Linked DNA regions of Homo sapiens: region 1 is linked to region 2. The links come from fine-mapping of genetic effects on gene expression. A gene starts in region 2. The other region holds a variant in brackets. All regions are shown on one strand. Distances are between the middles of the regions. Region 1 overlaps WNK1 (WNK lysine deficient protein kinase 1). Region 2 holds the start of WNK1 (WNK lysine deficient protein kinase 1).

Evidence for each region. PIP is the estimated chance that this variant, and not a neighbour inherited with it, causes the effect.
Region 1: its variant is the best candidate, but not a certain one, in a credible set for the expression of WNK1 in whole blood (TOPMed, PIP 0.76).

What each region holds. Positions count from the first base shown.
Region 1 is chr12:855,384-859,774 of GRCh38, forward strand. It overlaps WNK1 (WNK lysine deficient protein kinase 1), which reads left to right. Exons shown (of 28, transcript NM_018979.4): 5 at 1,778-1,866; 6 at 3,862-4,081. Among named protein-coding and RNA genes, the nearest start is that of RAD52, 92 kb to the right of the region's middle. The variant G/A (reference allele first, on the strand shown) is at 2,623.
Region 2 is chr12:750,596-754,986 of GRCh38, forward strand. It overlaps WNK1 (WNK lysine deficient protein kinase 1), which reads left to right and starts at 1,984. Exons shown (of 28, transcript NM_018979.4): 1 at 1,984-3,729. The coding sequence starts at 2,971. RefSeq lists enhancers at 1,040-1,139, 1,190-1,239, 1,997-2,715, 2,716-3,434 and silencers at 1,880-2,029, 2,110-2,489, 2,500-2,879.

The DNA of each region.
Region 1 (4,391 bases), 100 kb after region 2:
ATTGGGTCTTCGGAATAATACAATGAGTAATTGAGCATTATCCAGCTTTGGATATAACTCTTGTACTTAAAAGACTTTAGAGCTTATCATTTTATGTATTTCATTTATTTCATTTAGATCTATGAGAGATTACATGCATTTCTGTGATTTATTAGTCACTAATTTTGTTTTACCATATCTGTCATTGACACTATAGATAATCAGAATTTATGTATATTTAATAACTTAACTTTTCTGACCACCCCACCCCAACTCCATTCCCTTTGTTTTATGTGTCTGTTGACTTACAGTGCCACTTGAACAGCATATCAGTGCTTCAACTCTTGATCCGTGTGGTGACTTAGATGAGGTCAGAATAGATGAGATCTTTTTCTCTTTCACCCCACCTCTTAGACAGTAGCATTTTGTTCTTACATCTTATGTATATTTTCCACACATTGCTGTTTTGTTTTTGTTTTTGTTTTTGTTTTTTTTAAAGATGGAGTCTTGCTCTGTCACCAGGCTGGAGTGCAGTGGCTTGATCTCAGCTCACTGCAACCTCTGCCTCCCGGGTTCAAGAGATTCTCCTGCCTCAGCCTCCCGAGTAGCTGGGACTACAGGCATGCGCCACCACGCCCATCTAATTTTTGTATTTTTAGTAGAGACGGGGTTTCACCATGTTGGCCAGGATGGTCTCGATCTCTTGACCTCGTGATCTGCCCACCTCAGCCTCCCCAAAGTGCTGGGATTACAGGTGTGAGCCACGGCGCCCAACCTGAAAATTTATTTTTAAAGAATTTATTGGCTGGGTATGGTGGCTCACGCCTGTAATCCCGGCACTTTGGGAGGCCGAGGAGGGCGGATCACCTGAGGTCAGGTGTTCGAGACCAGCCTGGCCAACATGGAGAAACCCCCATCCCATCTGTACTAAAAATACAAAAATTAGCTGGGCATGGTGGCGTATACCTGTATTCCCGGCTACTCAGGAGGCTGAGGCAGGAGAATCACGTGAACCCAGGAGGCAGAGGTTGTAGTGAGCCAAGGTCACACCACTGCACTCCATACTGGGCAACAGAGCAAGACTCCATCTCGAGGGAAAAAAAAAAATAAGAAAGAATTTATTTATACTTTATAAAGATTTTAAACTATTACTGTGATGACTACTATGTAGTATCACATGTGATAGTGGTAATGAGTTTTCTTCTGAGATTAATTGCAGAGCTTGTCTTTCGTATGGGTCCAATATATTACTTTTCATTGTGTTTTATTTGTGCAGGACAATTTGCTCTTCAGTTATCATACCAAAACAATATAAATCCTCAACTCCTTTGAGTTTGTTAAAGATTACTATAATAATATAATCCCTGCCAAACTAAGCATGTGAATTCATGCCCACACATGGGTTCAGTGTTCAAAATAGTTAAATGCTGTATTGATTTATGTGTTTAGGGAACAAGGTTGAACAAAAGATCTTCTAACCAATTAGAACATTTAGCTTTCTTTTTTAGGCAATAAATTCCTTTACTTGAAACACAGCAGAAGATATTAACATCTGCCTAAATTTTTTCATTGTCACATATGGAAGTAAGTGACCCTGCTGTCACTGTTCCATGTTTTCTTGTGAAGAGCTAAGTTGTCACTACCCAACTGTGACACTGCATGGACCAACTCCTGCAGGCGAGTCAGAAAAAAAGCCGGGATAGTAAGAAAGGAACCTAAAAGAACCTTAATTGGAAATTTAAAAAACAAAGTTCAAAGGCCCTGCTTTTATTAATGTATTTCTGTTTATGGTTTTCAGGGGGTGAAGCCAGCCAGTTTTGACAAAGTAGCAATTCCTGAAGTGAAGGAAATTATTGAAGGATGCATACGACAAAACAAAGATGAAAGGTAAGTTGCCTCTTTTGATCTGGGTGATACTTGAACAAAACCTAAAAAGTAATGTGCTTTGAGTACAACACACATTCTACGGTGTATTTAATATTTGTGATTGGTTTCTCTATTTGTGCCTGTAACATTTTTAAAGGTAGGGTTTTGTTCATTGTGGTTATTCAGATTTGATATACTGGAACACTGTAAAAATATGGTTTGGTAGAGTTTCAGTAAACCAGAACCACCATAAACATAGCTACATTCCATGAGAACTGCTTACTTAAAACATCAGCATGATTTATAAAACTCAAAAAAGAGTTTAATATCTAACACAGGAAATCTTTTCTTAGTCCTTTACCATTGAATTCTAAGTGGTGAAATAAAACTTTGGCTCTTTAAAGTCAGCTCAGCTATTACAGGTCTGATTTGCCGTCCTTACGCCAGAATTGAAGAAGAGCAAAACATCAAAATTCCTTGAGTAAAAAGAGAAGACTTGGCCCAGGGGTTGGAAGGAGATGTGGCTTAGTCATTTGTACTAACAGAGGGCTTCTCTTAGAGGAGTGGCAAGTATCTGATCTGCCATGTAGCTGATTCATCACCCGTCAGGCATGGCGAAGGTCCAGTGTCTGTTTCTGAAAAACAGTCTATCTTTGCCACCCCCTTCCATCCTCCAAAAAAGAAAAAGGAGACCAGCTAGTACAAATACAAATTGCAAATTGAGCATAATCTACCACTTGAAGAATGAGAGCTATCAGATGTATCAACCGAATTAAA[G/A]AATTCCATCTTTTCACCTCTCCAGTCTCGTTCTTTTTATAACATCGTTATTTAGAAGAGCTTAACTTCATGGTTTTTAAGCCTTTATTAAGTAAAAATTTAGTTTGAGTTTTCATTTTTATATATGCTGGGTACTTAAATCTCTTTAAGAACTTTTTACTATAAACAAAGGAATGTTTGTTTCAACTCTTTTTTTTTTTTTTGGACACAGTCTTGTCACGTCGCCTAGGCTGGAGTACAGTGGCATAGTCTCAGCTTACTGCAACCTCTGCCTTCCAGGTTCAAGCAATTCTCCTGTCTCAGCCTCCTGAGTAGCTGGGACTACAGACGCACATCACCGCACCTGGCTAATTTTTGTATTTTTAGTAGAGACAGGGTTTCACCATATTGGTCAGGCGGGTTGCAGACTCCTGACCTGAGGTGAACCACCCACCTTGGCCTCCCAAAGTACTGGGATTACAGGTGTGAGCCACTGGGCCCAGCCTGTTTCAACTCTTGTTGGAGCAGTTTATTAGATGATTGGCATATTGAAACCATTTTATCTTAAGATTGTTTCACAATCAGACTTCTGCTTGCCCAGTACACAAATTATTGAACAAGGAATTAAGAGAACTTACTGGTGTAAATAAAGCTTGCTGTGGTAGAAAGTACCAAACTAGAAACAAAAATATTTATTTTCTAGTTTCTATTTCAGCATTTACAGCTTTTATAACTGTGAGCAAGATTCTCAACCTTTCTGGGCCTCCATTTCCTAATAATCAGGAGATGATATCAAATTGGGTGTTGGTCAGACAAGATCATAAATATGAAGATTTGTGTTACTTATAAAATGCTATATAAATGATCATGTGGTATTTTGAAGCTTTAATAGAGCCAATTGTGTTAGCCCACCATTACTAGTATACTATTACTAATAAGATCATTGGATTTAAAAATTATGTTACAATTGTGTTAGCTCGCCATTACTAGTATACTATTACTAATGAGATCATTGGATTTAAAAATTATCACTGTCAGCTCTTATTCATGAATGAGATTGTTATGATGTTTTATAACTTCAGAGTAAACCTCTGTAGGCACCCTTCAAATTCAGCAATGTAAAAATGAGTTATACTTTCCCCTGTATTTTTTCCCATTTTTTTCTTCTGCGAATAACAATAATTGGCCACATTTGAAAATTATTTTTTCAAACTAATGGTGTTTTATTTTTGTTCCTTTTCTTTTCCCTCTGTTTGGAAGATATTCCATCAAAGACCTTTTGAACCATGCCTTCTTCCAAGAGGAAACAGGAGTACGGGTAGAATTAGCAGAAGAAGATGATGGAGAAAAAATAGCCATAAAATTATGGCTACGTATTGAAGATATTAAGAAATTAAAGGGAAAATACAAAGATAATGAAGCTATTGAGTTTTCTTTTGATTTAGAGAGAGATGTCCCAGAAGATGTTGCACAAGAAATGGTAAATTGACATTAGCCATTTTAAAATTGATTTAGACTTATATATATCAATACTATCATTAAGCAAAAAAGCAGTTGATGAAGTGCCGTGTGTGGCATATCCCATTGACATAAAATTGTGATGGCCCTAAAAGTTATCTTTGATTAGTGGGATTTTCGTGTGTGTGTGTTTTTTTTTTTTTTAAACTTCTTTGTATTGCTTTTATAATGGGTGTTAGATTTTATAGTCCTTTTTAAAAGTAAATTTTTTTTTTTTTTGATGGAGAGAGAGACAGGGTCTTGCTCTGTCACCAGGCTGGAGTGCAGTGGCC
Region 2 (4,391 bases):
CAGTAAACAGGAACAGGCAATAATAAAATCCTTTAACAACCACTCACACAAAAATATCCTAATTTTTTCATGGTGCCAAAAGGGAACATTGTGATTTACTGATCTTCTTTTAACTTGCCAATTTGTAATTAGCTGCCTTATGTTTAAAATCAGACTATTTTTCCTAGTGAAGCAACAATTGGGTAAGTTTTATTTTACTCAAAAGTACAATAAAAATGTATTTTACAGCCATTTCTTCCCTTGCTTACATTAGGTTTACGGTTAGAAAAACACTCTTAATTCCATTTGCCATAATGAGATTATTTACCATTACCAATAGCAAACGAATGAAAGATACATTTTCTAAAGCAATGGAACACTAATATTTTAGTACTCTAGTTGTCCCTGCTGAATCGGCATTTTAAAATGTTCGTAACCTGTCAGCTTCATGAAACCTAACGATCATTGGTTTAAAACATTTTTGTAAACTTGAAAGTGTAGCTTGTGATAAACAACAAAAAAAGAAAGAAAAGAAAAATAGGGTTAAGTATTTTACGTATCAGATGAATTAACATGAACTGCAGGGCAAGACTTCTGTAGGTGGAGCTCATCCGATAACTGTGCTAAGGAACCTCCTGCCGAGTTCCTTGCTAGCTGCTCGCTCGCAGCGTGGTCCTCGGCCCCGACGCGCGCTTTCGAGCTTGTTCCGCAGCGGGCGCTGAAGAGAGGCGGCCGCGTCCGGACGCTCTGATGCGGTTGCGTACGTTTTCAGCGCTTCCCGCTCTCCACCGGTTGGACTGAGGCTTTTAAACTGCAGTCTGCTCCCGAGTCCGGCTTCCTACTCGGTCTGGTGCCCCCTGGTGCTCGTCCCCTCCACATCTTGAGTAGTTGCGAAGAGCACAGGGGTCCAGGCAGACAAGGATGCTTTCAAGAAAAACATTCCATGGCGGCAAGCCGCATGGATCCACATTTCCCGGGCCCAGAGCCTTTGTAGACATTGCATGTGGACATTCAGGAGCTCTAGAGAAAGAGGGGGTGTTGTTTCACGAAGCCACCAGCAGAAGAAAGGTGGAAAATAAGTTTCAACCAACTACAAAGGCAGAAGTCAGCCCAGCCCCCCAAGTGTGGTCAAAGACCCATAGATCCGTAGACCTTATCTTTTCTTGAATCCACCGCTCCCCCAACCCCCCTTTTATTATTTTTCAGACAAAGCAAAGATAGAGTTCACTAGGATCCCCGATTTCAGTAAGGCAGCCCTTTTTTGAGAGCCAGAATATCCGTCTCGGCCGGGAGCTGAGAATGTGGCCTTAATTGATGAGGGGAGGAGGATGGAAGGTAATCCTCCGTGTCTCCTCCTCCAATCCGTTTAATCAATATTAATTTCATGCACAATCTTCACAAAGTTTCTTTTCCCCTCCTCCGACTCAGAGCTCAGGCTCCGGTTATCCTGCTTTGCCCTTCCCTTCCACCCTCACAGCCCTGCAGTCACTCAACACTACTGAGGCTCTCTCCATTAAAGATGAACAACAGATCATTTTTCATTGCATGGCAACCCTAAGAGCTCTCTAGCTTAGCAGAGCATGATGGGAGTCTTTCCATCCCCCCCCCCACCCCCCGCCCGCTCGTTCCTCTTCTTTTTTTTTTTTTTTTCCTTCCTTTCCTTCTTCCACAATTAATCCCTAAATAATGATTTTCCTAAGCTCGCGCGGACTTCGGGATGGGGTTGAGCGACCCGTGATGACGCTCCCATCAGCCTTTCAGAAGGGACGGTTTCCAAAGAAAACTACAACTCCCACGAGGCATTAGGCTACAGCAACCGCAAGGCATCACGGAAGTCGTAGGCACTTTTCTTCTAGGTCCCGTTCATCCCCGCCAACCCGTAAACTATAAGTCCCAGGGTGCCTCGGGGCTAGCACGCCTGCGCAAAAGCCCCGGAGCGAGTTGGGGGGTGGGGCTGCTCCGGGCGGCGGGGGGCGGGATCCGAGCGGGCTGTGTGGAGGCTTCAGACTCCCGGCGCCATTTAGCGCGGAGAGTTTCCCGGGTGGACGCGGCTCCTCTCTCGGCCACTCCGCACCCCCATCTTCGGTGACAGAAGGCGCCTGGTGGGGGTGGCTGCTCTTTTCTCTCCCTGTTCCCCCTCACCCAGTCCTCTAGGTCTCCTCTCCTCTTGCCTCAGAGAAGCAGCGGAGCTCGGGCCCCGCGGTGAGCGGCCCTCCCCTCCCCGCCGTTCCCTCCTCCGTCAGCCCCCGGCACCGGCCCGGGAGGAGACGGGTTTGCCAGGCCTGGGGCGGGCGGGGAGGCCTCGGGGAAGGGGGGGCCCGCTCCTCAGGCGCCGAGGCTCCGAGGCTCCGGCCCTTCGCCTCTGGGCGATGGGCGACCTGTGAGGCCGGTCCCCATCGCTGGGGGCGCGTGTGGGAGGAGGCGGCCGCCCGAGTGACCGGGAGCCGGGCCGCGGCCTTCCCTCGCCCGCCTCGGCCCCTCCCACTCCTCTGCCCCGGGGCCGCCACCGCCCGGGCGTCGGACCTGGTCCCGTGCTCGCGGTGCCGCCGCCCTCTGGGCCTAGCCCGCCCAGCTCGGCGAGCGGCGGCAGTGGGAGCCGCGTCCGCCGCATCCGCCTCGACTCGGTGCCGGCCCCTGGCCCTCCCCTCATGACTGCGGCGCCTCTGCTGCCACCGCCCGCCCGGCCGCCGCTCGCCGCAGGATGGATGCGGACCGTGCGGCGCTAACCCCCGTGGCTCAGCTCCCGAATCGCCCGCCTTCGAGCCCTCCTCGTGAGCCGCAGCAGCCTCGGTGCCAGCCCCCGCCGCAGCTGGGCCCAGCGGTCCGCCTGTCCCTCGTTGCGGCTTGTCGGTGCTGAGTGAGGCGTCGTCCGGGTCGGCGCGAACCCGCCCGGCCGCGGTTCCCTGCAGACCTCTGCGCGGGCGGCTCGGCCCTTCACGCCCTTTTCGTTCACGAATCCGAGCCCGCTCGCCTCTCTCCAGCGAACCGACCATGTCTGGCGGCGCCGCAGAGAAGCAGAGCAGCACTCCCGGTTCCCTGTTCCTCTCGCCGCCGGCTCCTGCCCCCAAGAATGGCTCCAGCTCCGATTCCTCCGTGGGGGAGAAACTGGGAGCCGCGGCCGCCGACGCTGTGACCGGCAGGACCGAGGAGTACAGGCGCCGCCGCCACACTATGGACAAGGACAGCCGTGGGGCGGCCGCGACCACTACCACCACTGAGCACCGCTTCTTCCGCCGGAGCGTCATCTGTGACTCCAATGCCACTGCACTGGAGCTTCCCGGCCTTCCTCTTTCCCTGCCCCAGCCCAGCATCCCCGCGGCTGTCCCGCAGAGTGCTCCACCGGAGCCCCACCGGGAAGAGACCGTGACCGCCACCGCCACTTCCCAGGTAGCCCAGCAGCCTCCAGCCGCTGCCGCCCCTGGGGAACAGGCCGTCGCGGGCCCTGCCCCCTCGACTGTCCCCAGCAGTACCAGCAAAGACCGCCCAGTGTCCCAGCCTAGCCTTGTGGGGAGCAAAGAGGAGCCGCCGCCGGCGAGAAGTGGCAGCGGCGGCGGCAGCGCCAAGGAGCCACAGGAGGAACGGAGCCAGCAGCAGGATGATATCGAAGAGCTGGAGACCAAGGCCGTGGGAATGTCTAACGATGGCCGCTTTCTCAAGTTTGACATCGAAATCGGCAGAGGCTCCTTTAAGACGGTCTACAAAGGTCTGGACACTGAAACCACCGTGGAAGTCGCCTGGTGTGAACTGCAGGTAAAGCCCCACCTACTTTATTTGACGGTCCTTTGGATCCCAAATTTGGCTCGGCGAAGCCAGTTGATCGAGTTCACCCTTCACTTGGCATTCTCTGTTGGACTCCGAGTGGGACGGGGAGGCCAACTTTTGAAAGGGGCTGAAATTAGGAGAATGTGGAGCATGTGCCTAGGTGTTGGGATAGGATAAGAATTATTGGTAGCCAGAGGGATTTGCTACCGGGCAGCGGTGGTGAAGGTCATCTTAGTACAAACGAATTGTCTCCTGGTTTAGAGTCTGGCAGGAAACTTGGAATGAGTGGGGAAGTTGAAAGTACAGATGCTTCTTCTTCTGTGCATTTCAATCTCATCAAAGGCTCTGCAGTGATGAGCTGCGTCTGGGTGTAGAAGCGTGTTTTCATTCCTGAGATCAGGCTGTTCTTTTTAAATGAGAACAACCTTGTACCTTTGGATGTATTTTGCTTGATGGTTGCACAGGCATTTAGTATAAAATAATTATTAAAAAAAGACTCTTCTCTGCCCCTTTTGGATGTTTGATGTTGTTCTACCTAATGATGCTTAAGCCTTACAGTAGCAGCATTGCTCTGACGTTCATTAAACTAATGTCTTTCAGCCCATTCACTATACAGCGAATAGTATAGGAGCCCATGCAAAATTGTGTAA